Homo sapiens: one gene and its partners. The main gene of each other region encodes a partner of the protein of the gene in region 2 in a complex. Each region holds a gene or a part of one and is shown on either strand. Other genes may lie near its edges. The genes, in order: PRPF19, PPIE and ISY1.

Evidence for each region.
Region 1: PPIE (region 2) and PRPF19 share a complex: the UniProt entries of both Homo sapiens proteins name them as parts of the XAB2 complex.
Region 3: PPIE (region 2) and ISY1 share a complex: the UniProt entries of both Homo sapiens proteins name them as parts of the XAB2 complex.

The regions. Positions count from the first base shown.
Region 1 is NC_000011.10:60,890,010-60,896,674, forward strand, and holds the end of PRPF19 (pre-mRNA-processing factor 19), read right to left. Parts: intron 1,255-6,665; coding exon 1,157-1,254; 3' UTR 538-1,156; downstream 1-537. UniProt on the Homo sapiens protein: Ubiquitin-protein ligase which is a core component of several complexes mainly involved pre-mRNA splicing and DNA repair. Required for pre-mRNA splicing as component of the spliceosome.
Region 2 is NC_000001.11:39,741,814-39,748,939, reverse strand, and holds part of PPIE (peptidyl-prolyl cis-trans isomerase E), read right to left. Parts: intron 7,046-7,126; coding exon 7,019-7,045; intron 7,013-7,018; exon of another isoform or gene 6,909-7,012; intron 5,725-6,908; coding exon 5,643-5,724; intron 5,117-5,642; coding exon 5,016-5,116; intron 3,566-5,015; coding exon 3,442-3,565; intron 38-3,441; coding exon 1-37. UniProt on the Homo sapiens protein: Involved in pre-mRNA splicing as component of the spliceosome. Combines RNA-binding and PPIase activities.
Region 3 is NC_000003.12:129,126,792-129,130,066, forward strand, and holds the end of ISY1 (pre-mRNA-splicing factor ISY1 homolog), read right to left. Parts: 3' UTR 624-3,275; downstream 1-623. UniProt on the Homo sapiens protein: Component of the spliceosome C complex required for the selective processing of microRNAs during embryonic stem cell differentiation. Required for the biogenesis of all miRNAs from the pri-miR-17-92 primary transcript except miR-92a.

The DNA of each region.
Region 1 (6,665 bases), on a different chromosome or scaffold from region 2:
CTGTCAATCACCCCAGACTGTACACCATGGTTCCCCCGACTTTGCCACCATGACCTCCTTCCTGTTCCTCCATATATCTCGCTCAGTCCAGCCCTAGAACCTGCTCTCTGCCTGCCAACACTCCTCCCCTCTCAGGTCCCTCTCATTCCAGCTTCAGCTTCATCACCACCACTTCAGAGGCCTTTCCTGACCTGCAATCTAAAGCAGTCACGTGACCCTACAGGAATTCCCTATAAGGCACATTCATTATCAGATCTTTGTCCCGAAACCAGTCCTACCACAGCTTTTCAATCGCCAGAGTCAATAAAAAAATCTCCTTTTTGACTTATGCCAGCTGAGGACAGGCTAGAAAGCCTACAACTAAAGAACCCTGATGGAGATGCTCAGACCTCCCCACCAGCAAGATCCAGCTAATCTTCCCTGCAGGTCTCCCTCCCTTCCAGGCTTGTGTAGGAAACCAAGTCTACAAGGCAAGTGGCAGGACTAGTGACTTGAGGCCTTTAGACACAAGGTCAAGAACCGCAGGGACATGGCAAATTTCATCTGCAGATTTGTTTTTATTTCTGCTGTGCAATTAAAAAAAAAAAAAAAGGGTAAGAGCTGTGAAAGGAAAGGAAGATGGGCTTCCCGGAAGCCAGTGTCCCAGTGTGTGCTCCCTCCCCTTGACCTTCCCAGTCCCAGGTGCTCCTGGTGCAGACAGACACGGGGAGGTGGTTATGGTTATTGTTTTCTTTTTTTAATGAAACTAGATCACTGCTTACAAAACCCTGCACAAGCCCTCCTGCCCATCCCCTTCACAGTTCCCTTGGCTCAGCCTCTCCTGTCTCACAGGAACTGCAACAAAATGGGTGTGGAACAGCCACCACCACGTCCATTGAACGACAGGAAGGGAGAGGCCCTGGGCTCCGACCCTGGGCCTTAAGAGGGTGACAGTTCTTCCTTCCACATCCGTTCCCATGGGGCCTGGAGTTGCATGGATGAGGGTGGTCCATGCCACCATGGTTCTCAGGCCACCACTCAGACCAGAGTGAAATGATGTGAATGTCCCACCCCACAGAGCCCCCTCCCCCCATAGATTCCCCCCACCCCCCCCCCCAAACCCTAATTCTACCCCTCTACTGAGATGAGGCCCAGCTTCCATCAGAAGGGCCAGGGCCTACAGGCTGTAGAACTTGAGGCTTCTGTCCATGCCTGTTGAAGCGATGAACTTGGCGTGATGCCCGAAGGCCACCCCTGTGGTCAGGCCGCTATGCTCTGAGGAGAAAGATAAGAGGCAACTGTGAGAAGGCTTTTCCTCCTTTAGTCTGAACACTGATCCCTAATAACAGATTCCCAAACAACCAGGCCTTCTCTAATTAGTATTTATCACACCGCAGGCTCCTGTTTGTTTTCCCTAGGCTGACCTGCACACTACCCCCAGTGCCTCCCTCAGTGCCTGGCATTTTTCACTGGTGGGATGAATGAATAAAGCAATGCCAGCCCCCCCTTCTCACCTGAGCTTTCTGGGCAACTGCAGTTCGGCTAGGTTTAGTTGAAAAACCTCAGAGCTCAGCTTGTTTATGCCTAGTGCTCACTACTTGCTCGTAAGTGGAACAGTCCATCAGCATTTTCTAGCTCATAGTGTTCCAACCCCAGGGCACTCAGGCCCCTAACACAGAGCAGGACCAGATAAGAGGCAGATGAGGCTGGGCAACATTCCTCATGGGACTCCAGAAATTCATGAACATCTGGCCAAATTCCTTCTAGATTTAGGATCACACCTGGAGTCAACCAACTCCCCATTAAAAAGCTCACGCTGTATTTTCAGCTACCTAACTCGGTTCTAAATCAAAACACCAGGTACAGTACAGGGTGAAAACCGGTGAGCCATATTGTTAGGATGGACACCTTTGTTATACAAACACACTGAGCAGGGCTCAGGAGAATACGGGGCAAGAAGAAATATCTTGTATCCTGCTCACAACCTGCTAATGAGGACGAGAATTTCATCAACACACACAGCAGTAGCTCCCATTCATGTAGCATCTTAAGTGAGCATCAGGCACCCTGTTACCAGCATATTAGCATGCCATCTCCACAACACCAGCTGTCACACCCTGCAAAGCTGTGCCAATATTCCCATTTTCTAGATGAAGGAGTTCAAGATCTGAAAGGGAAAGTCACGTACCCAGGGCCACATAACTGTTAGGTTAGAAACCCTGTTACCCATTCTCTCAGCATCTCATGCTTTTCTTCTCTAGCACTTATAATTGCAATTAAATGTGTACATGTGAAATTAATCTACATCTGCCTTACTAACCTGACTATAAATTACATCAGTGCCCAAATCGGGTCTGTTTTATTCACTGCTCTATCCCACCACAGACTAAGACCCAATGCTGAGTGAGAACAACTGCAAATCCTGACTACGTGCCAGACACCGTTCTGACCTATGTATTCACAGACGGTCCCCGATTTACCATGGTTCAACTTGCAATATTTTCAGCTTATGATGCACTTATCAGGATGTGGCTCCATCGTATATCAAGGAGCACCTGTATGTATTTTCATCTAAACCTCAACAACCCCACTGAGTCTATAGTTACCATTCCCACTTTTCTGAGAGGTTAAGTAATATTGGATCTCAGAAAACAATACCCCAAAGTATGGTGGTTTGGCACGCTGAGGGCTTTGAACCAAGGTCTCTCTGACCATGTCCTGCCCTCCTGTCTCTTGCCCCTCTTTCTCTAAGGGCAGGTCATCTGAAAGGAACATCATGAATCCCCTTCCTGGGAATCTCAACCAGGGAAAATGAACTGGTCTCACAAGAGAGAAGACTAGATGCCAGTCTTTGTCACAGACTGTCATGCATTATTTATCTAAGGTCTGCTCTGAGACAACTTTTATTACCTGAGAGACTCTGTAGTGCACTTCCTCCCCATCCCCCCACATAACTTGTGTCACCACCACCCCCTAGAAGCCTTAGGCCCCTACTCCCTTCTGCAGTTCAGGATGCCATAGAGTCATGTGTCACATAATGACATGTCAGCGACGGACCACACAAACACTGGTCCCATAAGATTACAGTGGAGCTGAAAAATTCCTATCACCAAGTGATGTCATAACCATCATCATGTCACAATGCAATGCATTATTCACGTTTGTGGGGATACAGGTATAAACAAATCTACTACACTGCCAGTTGTATAAAAGTATAATATAGCTAGGCGCGGTGGCTCACGCCTGTAATCCCAGCACTTTGGGAGGCCGAGGTGGGCAGATCACGAGGTCAGGAGTTTGAGATCAGCCTGGCCAACATAGTGAAACCTCATCTCTACTACAAATACAAGTACAAAAAAAAAAAAATTAGCCAGATGTGGTGGCACACGCCTGAAGTCCCAGCTACTCGGGAGGCTGAGGCAGGAGAATCACTTGAACCCAGGAGGCGGAGGTTGCAGTGAGCCAAGACCATGCCATTGCACTCCAGCCTGGGTGACAGAGCAAGACTCAATCTCAAAAAAAAAAAAAGTATAACATAATTAGGTACAGTACGTTACTGGTTTATGTACAGACATATCTCAGGGACATCGCTGGTTCAGCTCCAGGCTACCAATAAAGCAAATATTGCAATAAGGCAAGGCACACAAATTTTTTTGGTTTCTCACTACATATAAAAGTTATGTTGGCCAGGCATGGTGGTTCATGCCTGTAATCCCAGCACTTTGGGAGGCCGAGGCAGGTGGATCGCTTGAGTTCAGGAATTCAAGACCAGCCTGGCCAACATGGGGAAACCCCGTCTCTACTAAAAATACAAAAATTAGCCGGGTGTGATGGTGCCCACCTGTGCTAGAACCTGGGAGGTGGAGGTTGCATTGAGCCAAGATCGTGCCACTGCACTCCAGCCTAGGCGACAGAGCAAGACTCCATCTCAAAAAAAAATGTTATGTTTACACTATACTGTAGTCTATTAAGTGTGTAATAACATTATGTCTAGTAAACAATGTACATACCTTAATCAAAAATACTTTATTGCTAAAACATGCTAACAACCATCAGACACTTCAGTGAGTTGTCATCTTTTTCCAAGACCCACCAGCAGGGTCTTGCCTTGATGTCGATGGCTGCTAACTGACAAGGGTGGTGTTTGCTGAAGGCTGAAGTGGCTGTGACAATTTCTTAAAATAAGACAACAAAGAAGTTTGCCACATCATTTGATTCTTCCTTTGACAAAAGATTTCTCTGTGATGGATGCTGTTTGATAGCATTTTACCCACAGTAGAACTTTCAGAACTGGAATCAATCCTCTCAAATTCTGCACCTGCTTTATCAATTAAGTTTATGTAATATTCTAAATCCTTCATTATCATTTCAACAATGTTCACGGCATCTTCACCAGTAGAAGATTCCATCAAGAAACCACTTTCTTTGGTCATCCCTAAGAGCTCCTCATCCATTAAAGTTTTAACATGAGATTGCAGCAATTCAGTCCCATCTTTAGACTCCCCTTTGGATTCTAATTCTCTTACCATTTCCTCCACATCTGCAGTTACTCCCTCCATGGAAGTCCTCAATCCCTCAAAGTCATCCATGAGGGCTGAAGGGTTGGAATCAATTTCTTCCAAACTCCTCTTTATGTTCATAGTTTAACCTCCTCCCATGAATCACAAATGTTCTTAAGGGCGTGTAGAATGGTGAATCCTTTCCAGGTTTTCAATTTACTTTGTCCAGATCCATCAAAGGAACCACTATCCAGGGCAGCTATAGCTTTATAAAATGTATTTCTTAAGTAATAAGACTTGAAAGTCAAAATTACTCCTTGATCCATAAGCCGAAGATTGGATGTTGCAGGCATGAAACATCTCCATCTGAGCTTTAGGGTAATGAGGTGCACTGTAATATTTTGAAAGGAATCTATTTTTCTGAACAGTACCTCTTAATGGGGGGCTTAAAAAATATTCAGTAAACCATGCTGTAAACAGATGTGTTGTCATCCAGACTTTGTTGTTCTATTTACAGAGCACAGGCAGAGTAGATTTAGCCCCACCTTCTTAAGGGCCCTACAATTTTCAGAATGCTAAATGAGCTTTGGCTTCAATGTAAAATCACCAGCTGCATTAGTCCCTAACAAGGGAATCACTCTGATCTTTGCATCTTGGAAACCAGGCATTGACTTCTCTCTAGCTGTGCAAGTTCCAGATGTCACTTTCTTCCAATAGAAGGCTATTCCGTCTACATTGAAAATCTGTTGTTGAGTGTACCCACCGTCAATGATCTTAGCTAGGTCTTCCGGATAACTTGCTGCAGCTTCTACAACAGCATCTGCTGCTTCACCTTGTACTTTTCTGTTATGGAGATGGCTTCTTTCCTTAAACCTCATGAACCAACCTCTGCTAGCTTCAAACTTTTCTTTTGTAGCTTCCTCACCTGTCTCAGCCTTCACAGAATTCAAGAGTTAGGATCTTGGTCTGGATTATGGTTTGGCTTAAAAGAATGTTGTGGCTGGTTTGATATTCTATCCAGACCACTGAAACTTTCTCCATATCAGCAATAAGGATGTTCTGCTTTCTTATCATTTGTGCGTTCACTGGAGTAGCACTTTTAATTTCCTTCAAGAATTTTCCTTTGCTTTCATAACTTGACTAATATTTGGTGTTGAGGCCTAGCTTTTGGCCTATTTGGCTTTTCACATGCCTTCTTCACTAAGCTCAATCATTTCTAGCTTTGGATTTTAAGTAACAGACATGGGACACTTTCTTTCACTTGGACACCGAGAGGCCATAATACGGTTATTAACTGGCCTAGTTTCAATATTGTTGTGTCTAAGGAAATAGGGAAGTCTGAGAGGGAGAGAGATGGGGAACGGCTGGTGGGTGGAGTGGTCAGAACACACACAGCATTTCATTTATCAAATAAATTCAGTAACTTTTATGGGCACATTTCATGGTGCCCCCCCGCCCAACAATTACAATAGCAACATCAAAGATCACTAACGGACACAATAAATCATGAAGAAGTTTGAAATACTGTAAGAATTACCAAAATTTGACACACAGACACAAAGTGAACACATGTTGTTGGAAAAATGGTACTGACAGACTTGCTTGGGGCAAGGTTGCCAAAAACCTTCAATTTATAAAAAGCAAAGTATCCATAAAATACAATAAAGCTAAGTGCAATAAGACAAGGTATGCCTATACTATACTTTTTTTGGTATTAAATATACTCTTCCCACTTATAAAAAAAAGTTAACTGTAAAACAGCACCAAGCAGGCCCTTTCAGGAGGTATCCGAGAAGAAGGCATTATCATCATAGGAGATGACAGGTTTATGCATGTTGGTGCCCCCGAAGACCTTCCGGTGGGAAAAGATGTGGAGGTAGAAGACAGTGATGTTGGTGCTATGGTTAGGCTTTGTGCCGCCACCCAAATCTCATCTTGAATTGTAGTGCCCATAATCCCCACGTGTTGTGGGAGGGAGCCAGTGGGAAGTAACTGAATCATGGGGGTGGTTACCCCCATGCTGTTCTCATGATAGTGAGTTCTCACGAGATCTGATGGTTTTATGAGGGGCTTTAGCCCCTTTGCTCAGCATTTGTCTCTCCTGTTGCCATGTAAAGAAAGACATGTTTGCTTTCCCTGCTGCTATGACTGTAAGTTTCCTGAGGCCTCCCGAGTCACTGTGAGTCA
Region 2 (7,126 bases):
AAGCCCTTTTCATGAGTGCACAGGCAGCGGAAATTCTCTGGAATTGAGAAAGGAAAAAGCGCTGGGGTTAAAAAATAGGACAAAATAAAAAACCTCGAAAAAACTTTGGTTTAGTGTTCATATTTTTGTTTTAAAATAAGAGATACTCATTATAAACCTTTGTGATACTAACCTTGTAAGGACTATAAGGGATTCTTTTTCCTTGAGACGGAGTTTCACTCTTGTTGCCCATGCTGCAGTGCAATGGCACAATCTCAGTTCACTGCAACTTCCACCTCTTGGGTTCAAGTCATTCCCCTGCCTCAGCCTCTTGAGTAGCTGGGACTACAGGCATGTACCATACACCTGGCTAATTTTGTATTTTTAGTAGAGATGGGGTTTCACTATGTTGGCCAAGCTGGTCTAGAACTCCTACCTCAGATGATCCGCCCACCTTGGCCTCCCAAAGTGCTGGGATTACAGGTGTAAACCACCACACCTGGCCAGGACTATAGGAGATTCTGTTGAAGGGGGATTGAATATACATGTTCGAGCTCTGTTCCCTTTTAAAACCACACTAAATTGGTAGGAAACTGATTTTTTAAAAGAAAAACCAAAGGATCTTAGAAGAAAACATAGGGGCAAATCTTCATGACTCTGGATTTGGTGATGGTTTCTTAAATGTCACACCAAAAGCAGAGGTGAAAGAAAAAAATAATTAGATTTTATCAAAATTTAAGACGTGCATCAAAGAACCGTACCAATAGAGGGCAAAGCAACCCACAGAACAGGAGAATGCTTATTTGCAAATCATATTTAACATGGGTTTAATATCCAGAATATATAATGAACTCCTATAATTCAACAACAAAATGGCCAGGCACGGTGTAATCCCAGTGCTTTGGGAGGTCAAGGCAGGAGGATCACTGGAGGTCAAGGGTTCAAAGCTACAGTAAGCCATGTTCTCACCACTGCACTCCAGCCTGGGAGTCAGAGCAAGACCCTGTCTCTTAAAAAAAACAAAACAAACAATCCAGTTAATAAATAAGCCAAAGATTTGAAAAGATGTTTCTCCAAAGAAGATATACAAATGGTCAACAAGCACATGAAAAGATGTTCAACATCATTAGTCAGTAGGGAATAAAAATAAAAACCACAATGAGATGCCATGTCACACCTGTTAAGAGAAGATGTGGGCCAGGCATGGTGGCTCACGCCTGTAATCCCAGCACTATGGGAGGCCGAGGCAGGCGAATCATGAGGTCAGGAGTTTGAGACCAGCCTGGCCAACCAACATGGTGAAACCTCGTCTCTACTAAAAATACAAAAAATTGGCTGGGCATGGTGGCAGACGCCTGTAATCCCAGCTACTCGGGAGGCTGAGGCACAAGAATCACTTGAACCTGGGAGGCGGAGGTTGCAGTGAGCCAATATCACGCCACTGTACTCCAGCCCGGGCAACAGTGCGAGACTCTGTCTCAAAAAAAAAAAAAAAAAAAAAAAAAGAGAAGATGTGGAAAAACTGAAACACTCATACATTGCTGGTAGAAATGTAAAATGGTCCAGCCACTGTGGAAAATAGTTTGGCATTTCCTCAAAAAGTTAAATACAGAGTTACCATATGACTAAGCATTTCCATTCCTAGGCATATATATCCAAAAGAATTGAAAACAGGAATTTAAACATATACTTACATGTGGATATTCACACAGGCATTTACAATAGTCAAAAGGTGAAAACAATGTGCAAGTGCCCATCAACAAATGAATGAACAAGATATTTATCCAAATACAACGGAATATTATTCAGCCACAAAAAGGAATGAGGCACTGATACATGGTACAAGGATGAACCTTGAAAGCATTATGCTATGCAAAATCAACAAGGCGTGGAAAAGGACAGCTATTGTATGATTCCACTTACATGAAAAATCTAGGATAGGCCAATTCATAGACACAAAGATTAGAGGTTATCAGAAGCTAAGGGGAGGAGAAAATGGGGAGTTATTATTTAATAGGTACCTTTAATAAGTGGTTTTGTTTAGGATGATTCAAAAATTTCGAACAGAGTAATTACTGCTAACAAACACTTTAAAGTGGCTAAAATAGCCAAAAAATAAACTTAAAAAGCAGGGAGGAAGAGACAACAGCAACAAAATTTCTGAAGTTAGAAAACAAAATAGATGAGTCCTAAATGATATAGCAGACCCGAGAAAGCTGAATCTTAAGCTGGTAAAAGCCAAGAAGCAACTCAATTTGCACTCCAAAAGCTCAGAGGAAAGGGTGCAGGTAATCCTGGAGACAGTAAGTTTGGCTGAAAGCCCATTTAAGAAAGTGGTTAATCTTTGGGATCCTTTCCCTGACTCTGCAGCTGGGGGCCACCCCTCCCCAACCTGGTAGCCAGCTGGGGGTCTAGTCTTTGGTAGGTTAAAGCAGAGGGTCTCTGGACTAGGACATCCTACGCATAGTGAGGGCTGAGGTACCATAATGACAAATGGAGATTATGTGAAAGTTTATATACTGAATGTTGAGGAATTCAGCCTTGCCCTCATCTCCCCTTAACAAGATGCAGACACCTGGATGCAAAACCCCCAGCAGGATGGTCTGGGAGAAAATCAGGAATGATTACACAGAAAACTATGCAAAAACAAGGCAATTATCAATTCCAGGCAAAACAAAATGCTGTGCATGAAAGGAGGTTATCACATGATGCTTACATTGTTAAAATAACTTAGGACCTAACCAAAATTATGGTACCTATACAGGGAAGATGAGGGGGCAGGGAAGGGGATTTTAAAAAACTAATTCTTTGTTCTCTGAAGTAGAAAATCAGAAGATAATGTTTAAAATGGAAAACAGGAAGTAGAAATATAAAACTGTTATCAACATGGAAATAAAAACCAAAACACCTAAGAGTTGAAATCCGCTCCTCTGAGGAGCAGCAAATGGTGTTGGCAGCAGGGCACAGGGACAGCACCAGGGGACGACTGTTTTTTCAAAACAAGCTTTGTGAAACTGAATTGACTCTTTATATGTCTAGATAATAAAATTTAGATTAAAAAGAGAATAGAAGTCAATATTTAATAAATTACAAAGAATACTCAATAAAAGCACTAGTTACTTCTAGAATTGAGGACTGGATGTAGAGAGGGGAAAATGAATTTTCAATTTATTGTCTTAAATATTATTGGAATATATGTATATGCTATTCTTTAAAAAAAAGAATACATTATTTACTTGTATTTTTAAAAAACGATTAAAAAACAGTAAGCCAGCACTTATAAAGCTTCAAAAACACCTGCTCTGACTTATCTGTTACTAGATCCCAGGATCTGAGATGCCTCAAATCAACTTAGGTCAGAAGCAATATCAAGGACACAAGAAGTGAAGCAGTAAGAACCTGGGAAAGGCTCACTGCTCAGCCACCAGCGTCCCGCCGTTCTGACCACAGCGTCCTGCTCACCTGCTGTCATGGGCACGACATCAGAACGCAGGAGCATCTGGATGCGGCCAGCCGGCTTGTTCCCAATCTTGATGTCCATGTACACCTGAGGATTTGAGCGGGCCTTTTTAGCAATGGGCTCTCCCTAGGTGCAGAAGAAATTGCTAGTTAGAGAGAGCTCCCTGACGCCCTAAGTAGGAGTGCGAGTATTCTACACACCCACCCAGAACACAACTCCAGTGCGTAGGCTGGAGCAAGTGCTGACGGGGAAGGCCTTGGGCCCTGATAGGGCTGCAGGAGGCAGGAGCCATGGCCGTAGCACCCAGCTGGATGCCCAGCGACAGGAGGTCTCAGCACTGGCTAACCTGAGCCTCACACACGGGGGTGTTATCTCATCATGCTTGCCCTCAGATGCATCTGCTTCCTCCTCTTGCTTCACAGTCACAGAACAGCACTTTTCTGGTCCATGATCCACAACTCTCAGTATCTTCAAATGCCAGTTCCAGCCCACCCACTGTCCTCTAGTTAGGCAGACCCATCCATGTACCACCTCGTCCCTCTGTGCCTGGCCCTGCATATACACTGGCTAACTACATGGAAGCAAGGGGGCAGCCCTCTTGCTCAGGCCTAAGTGCTCAGAAGACAGTGGAAGATGTTGGGCCTTGCATTGTGCTCCAAGTAGGTAAGACTAAGCAGAGGATACAGGATGATCCAGGGGGACTCCACTGACTGTGATGGCCACTTTATGAGTTCTGATTTGCATTCAAATTTCTGGCGTGGGTCAATGTGTGGATGAATGGTGGCAAATTAGCCAAGATTGAGAACACAGGAAGACAGGATTAGAGAAGCGGGAGAATCCATTTTAGGCAAACTTAAGCTGCCCATGAGACTTGCAGGCAGAAATATCTGAAGCTCAGGACTAGAAAGAGACCATGAAGATCAACAGCATAACAGAGGCTGCATAAAACTAGAGATAGACTGCTACTGTTTCAGCTGAGAGAAGAGAGAGAAACCATGAGCCAAGAAAGAAATACAGAAGAATGACAACATTCACAAAGTACTCAGAGGAGGGGACGCCCAGGAAGCAACTGTCAGAGACTATGCTGAGAATCAGGGGGAAGTGCCCCAGCAGGTTCCCGTAGGACTGGAGAACCCTGAACCCATGTACAGGTTGAAGGAAGGGACACTACCCTATTCTGTCTCCCCTCCATTAGCACAGGAATAGGAAGACCACGACCCTTGTGGCAAACTCTTCAGTGAAGGAGGGGGACTGATCAGGAGGGGTGAAGAGGGGCACCTCAGCTTCCTCCCTGTCAGTTGATAATCACAAATCCATACCTGAGCAGAGCTGAGACACTCATCACATAGAACACAACATGGACAAGAGACCCAAAGTTTCGCCCTTGAATTCACTCGATATTGACTTTACCAAAGTACTAAGAACTCAATATTGACTTTACCAAAGTACTAAGAATTCATTATTCATTCCCTCCACTTTGATATACATATTGGCAAATTTCCATTAAAACTTAAAAAAAAAAGTCTCCTGTGGACAGCGCCGGCCTGTGCTCTGGAAGCAGGAGCTTCATTCTCACCTCCTGGGTCTCTGCTTTGGGAGGCTCTGACCCTTCTTCCTCTTTATTCTCTTCAAGCGTCTTCCCAGAAAACTTCTTCAACCAGTCATCATCTGACCAAACTGAAAGGAAAGAATCAAACAAATGTTCATTCAAGCTGTCAGCTTGAACTGAAAAGTAGCTGCTTTGGTCAGCAAAGTGGAAGATGCTATGTGGCCTGTATGCCAGACAATTCCCCACTGAGAACTCCCAGGGGTAAGGAAAGTTCCCATCCAGAATGTAGGCCCTGAAGTCCAGCTCTCAGTAGGGCTAAGGAAAATAGCTATGCCGAAAGCAAAGGTGTAGCCTTTGCTGATTTCAGCCCTTGATGGAGACCCCAGGAATGGAATATCAAGAAAACTGGGAAAGATGAGCTCAGGCAGGAATTTCTCTCATAACAGAAACAATCACTTTGGCTTTGCTGAGAAGCTCAAACTCACTTGTTTCTCTAAAAAGGTGGTGCATGCCCTTCCCAATGTGAACCATCATCTACTCCTATCTACCAGGAAGCAGCATTTAGCATCTACTTCCAAGTAAATAGAGACAAAAAATGCAACTAAGGCCAAACTGCAGAACATCACAGGGAATCTGGAAGTTGCTCCTACTCACCTGGCCTGGAAGAGCCTTCCTTAATTCTCATTGGTTTGGCCAAATTGACACGAATTGTACGTCCAAAAAGCTCAGATTCATTCTGAAAAGATTGAAAATCCAGCTGCTTAAACTCTCTTAGGTTAAAAGAGGGCCAGCCAGCTTTCCATATACTTCTGAGACACACTCATGATTTGTCCTCCCTTAATCCCTGGGCCTCTACCAGTAAGCTATGCAGCCACCCCAAAGCCACCTGTGGGTTTCAGGGAACTCACACCCCTTTCTTTCATAGCAGCACACAAAGACCTGTATTACCAAAAGTAACTCTGGGTTCAGAACACTCCAAAATTACAAAAATAAATGCAGTTTCCCAGTATTTGAGTTCACCTTCAAAAGTCAAGATAAGCTTTGAAATGAAAGAAAAATGATCTCTGACAGCTGATGAATATGTTTGGTGAATGGATAACAGAACAACAAATAAAACAACATCTCATTATCCAAAGATAATCGGTACCAGGAAAGGTCATTTAAGGTGACTCCACTTGAAGTGGTGATGAAGATTTCGTGGTAAAATTGAAAAATTTTAAAAGGCTGACTGGGAAATTACTGTGATGAAACTAAAAATAATAAAAACAAGTTTCTTACCATTAATATTCAGGACTAACTATGCACTAATCGGTAGAAAGAAATGTAACTTGGTAGAAAGAAATGTAACAGGTAGCCCAGGTAGCCCTGTTGGCTTGAGCCTGTAATTCCAGCTACTTGAGAAGCTGAGAAGTCTTGAACTCATGAGTTCAAGATTGTTAAAAAAAAAAAAAAAAAAAAAAAGAAAGAAAGAAAAGTAACAGGCACTGAAGTATTATTTTTCCAACAAAATTCTATCAACAGTATGGTATCTTTGCACTTCTTATCAGACATGAAAACTAAAAGGATCTCAAGGAAGGCACAAATACTAAAGAGCATCATCATTTTTCCCAAGGACCTTTCCAGAATATCCAAATCATTTGTATCAGTGATTTGCACCTGCCATAATTAAATTTCTCTTCTCAATTGTAAATTGGTCTAACACTTCATGAAATCCTGCTATTTTGCAAAATATGCAGTTACACCGTGCAATCAATTTGCACTGTGTCTGCAAATTATCCTAAACATGGGAGAGCCAGTGAGAGACTGGTCAACAAGGATGATGAGGACTTACATTATTCTGAAATGGCGAAGGAGTCTGAGTAAGAACTAATTTTATAAGTGATCAATTCACAGTGAATATTTTCATGTGAGAATTTTTACCTCCCCATGCAACCTTGTAACTTTGGAAGTCCAGAACACTGATATATGAATAAGGAGCCTCTGTACCACCAAAAAGCAACTTTAGTTAGAATTAAGATTCCCAGCCATACCATGTTGTCGATAGCTGCTGCAGCATCCTGCCAAGGAAAGACAAAGGTACAAGTTTAGGCTTGCAGCCAAATGCTTCTTATGGTGTCTAAACACATGCTCAGTAGCAA
Region 3 (3,275 bases), on a different chromosome or scaffold from region 2:
TTGTGGGAAAGAGAACCCAGGCTCAGGAACTGCATGACCTGCTAAAAGCCCCACGAGTTGCGGCAGAGAAGCAGGATTCAGAGTGCCAGGCCAGCCCTCCACGGACACTGCCTTCTGCATCCTTTCTGGTGGAGCAGGTGGGCAGCAAGTGAGATGCCAGAAGGAGCTGGGTGCCGCTGCCCGTCCCCCTGGATCCCTCTGCTTGCTAGTCAGCTGGGTGCTGGGCCAGGCCTGATGTCCATCCAGGCGGGTTCCTGCTTTCAGTGCTGCACAGTGAGCAGGGTGAGGAGCCCCAGCTAGGGTCCAGATCCTGCCAGTGTTTCAGGGAATGGGGTGTGCATGCGCAGCACTGCAGAGCAAGTGCAGGGCAAGAGGAGAAAGGTTTTCATTTCTTCCTTGTTTATAAACTGCCCAAGGGCAGATGGGGTCAGCCAGTTGGGGATGCAGCGGGAGGAGGTCCAGGAGGCCTGGGTGGGGATGCTGTGACCAGTCTTAAAGCAAAACAGGAGGGAGGTGGTGTGTTTTAGACGCTGGAGGACAGGCAGTGTGAGGGAAGAAGGAAGTTGATGGAAACATGACTATGAAAAAGTAGCTTTTCGGGAAACCACAGGCAGAGCCAAAGCTAAAATAAACCATTCAGTAGATTTTATTAACCAAACAAAGCCTCCTGAGATTGGTTCTGTCACCTCGGAGCCACAAGCTGGGAAAAGATAACCACACCCACCCAGCCAGCTTCCCCCACCCCCAGCTGTTTCCAGGCCTGGGACTGGAGCCCTGCTGAGACCTTGTCCCACATCTAGGACCCTCTAGGGCCTTTGGGCACAGACAAGTAGCAAGGGCCTCTGCCAGGAACACCTAGAGGATGTCCAGCTGGGTGCTTCTCCACTCTCAGTCTGTTTGCTCAAATGTGGAATTCTAATCCCTGGCCAGTTTGCATCCCGGGGATCCCTGAAGAGATCCCAGGAGGGGAGTGCTTTGTGCACTGAAGGCGTGGAACAGGGCACTGGAGGAGGAAGACCCAGAGCCCTGGCTCTCAAGACAGGCCTGGCTCCAAGCACCTGCCATCCTTCCCAGGGAGAAGGAAGGCCTGATGTCTGGATTCCCCATTCTCTTCTGAATGCCAGGAAGCACCAGAGTGCGCGTGTGCCCCTTGGAAGACAAACCCACAACCAGGCCTGTCTGAGGCCGGCCATCCGCACGCTCCCAAGAGGCTCAGACCTGGGTCAGTCTGTCCCTAGGGCCCTCTGAGGCCTCTGCCCAAACCACAGGACTGCCCAGACCCCAGAGCAAACTGAGACAGCACAGGTCCACTCCTTGACTTCAAAGTATGGAAGGTGAGGCTGGGCCCAGAGGGTCTTGCTCAAAGCCCCCACGATATTCACTCCTGAGTCCCCACCTGCAGGCCCAAGCTGGGTGCTGGGTCCCAGAGGCGAGTCTGCCTTGCTGCCTCCAAGGGCTCCCAAAGCTTCAACCTGGACACCTCTCCTCCCTGCACACATTTGCCTCCGGGCTTGACTGAGGGCTGGGATTGGCCAGCCCAGCCCTCAGGGAAGCCAGGAGGCAGGGGGGCCCCTTCCCCATCCTCACCTACACCCTGGCTACTCCCATCCCCACCAAGCCCACCCACCTCCTGCCAGGGCCTCTGCCCCAGCCTCCTCCTGACCTGGTCCTGCCTGGGCCTCTCCTTGTGGCCGCACGGAGCGTCCTCAAGCAAGTCCCTTAGCCACTAGCTCCCGACTCCCTCACTCAGACCTTTTCCACAGTCCTTGTGGCCCTCGGGCTCCTTAGAGAGGGCCCAGCACTGGCCACTCTCCCGACTTGGCCACACACAGCCACACACGGCTCTGCCACCCCCAGTCTGAGCTGCTCCCCGCAGACCAACCATCCCAGGCCTCCCGCTGTGTGATGGGCTTCTCCAAGCCAAGAGTTCCTCCTATTCCCAAACAGCCTGAGCTGGAGCCCCAGGCCCCAGGAACAGCCATCTGGCCCTGACCCTGAGTTCCCAGACACTCCCATGACCCTGCAGAGGGCAGGAAGCCAGGCACCATCTTGCCCAGGGGCTACAGCCGCTGACCATGGTTCCCCACTGGAGAGCTAAGCCCCAGTTCAGAGGAAGCTCTGGACTCAGCTCGTGTCCACTGTGTGCTTTCAGCAGGCCACGGTGCAGCCCACTGCAAGGAGCCCTGTCTACAGCTGTGGCCACGGACGCCATGGTGGGTCGGCTCACTCCCACCTAGACTCCTGGGATCTGGTCCTGTCTTTGCCACACTTGGGGCTGGGGCTTCAGGGACTCCCCTGCAGGAAGGCAGTGCCCCTTAGTGACTGGTCACATCCTAATGCCACTGTCACCTCAGAGCCGTTGGCCCAGGGAACAAGCTGAAGACATGGAGGTTTCCCTTTCTTATAAAAATCTTTAATAAAAATAGGTTTCTGCAGAACAGGTTATAAAACAGGAATAGCAAACTCAAATTCCTGCCACCCAGGCAGGAGCGAGTGGAGCAGGTGGAGGGGGGCTAACGGAGAGCCCAGAGCAGCAACCAACACAGAGGGACCTGGTCATTGACTTGTGGGTTGCGTGCATCTTTTTTTTTTTTTTTTTTTGGGACAGAGTCTCACTCTGTCGCCAGGCTGGAGTGCAATGGCACGATCTTGGCTCACTTCAACCTCCACCTCTCGGGTTCAAGTGATTCTCCTGCCTCAGCCTCCCAAGCAGCTGGGACTACAGGTGCATGCCAGTACGCCCAGCTAATTTTTTTGTATTTTTAGTAGACATGGGGTTTCACCATGTTGGCCAGGATGGTCTCCATCTCTTGACCTCGTGACCCGCCCGCCTCGGCCTCCCAAAGTGCTGGGGTTACAGGCGTGAGCCACTGCGCCTGGCCACATCATCTCATTTTTCAAGAGATGTGTCTTTTAGAAAATTTGCATTTTTTAAAATTATACTTTGGTCTGCAAAAAATTGCATTTTTAAATGTTTGCCACTAATTGATTCTTCTCCCCTCAAAATGGCAGTGCAAGTCAAAATAAGACACAGGCAGCCAGTTCGCAACCTGTTGTATACACTCCACAATAAAAATAAATGGATCCACACAGTAGCAAAATATGTGTACAAAACCTACCAGGAAGACCAGGGACAGACCCCTACCCTCCGGTCAACATGAGACAAGGAGAGGGAAGGAAGGCTGAGAATGGGGCAGGAGCCCTTGCAGCACCAGCCTGTGTCTGCAGCCCTGGGTCCTGAGGTACCACTGGGGGATGGAAGAACTCCAAGGAGA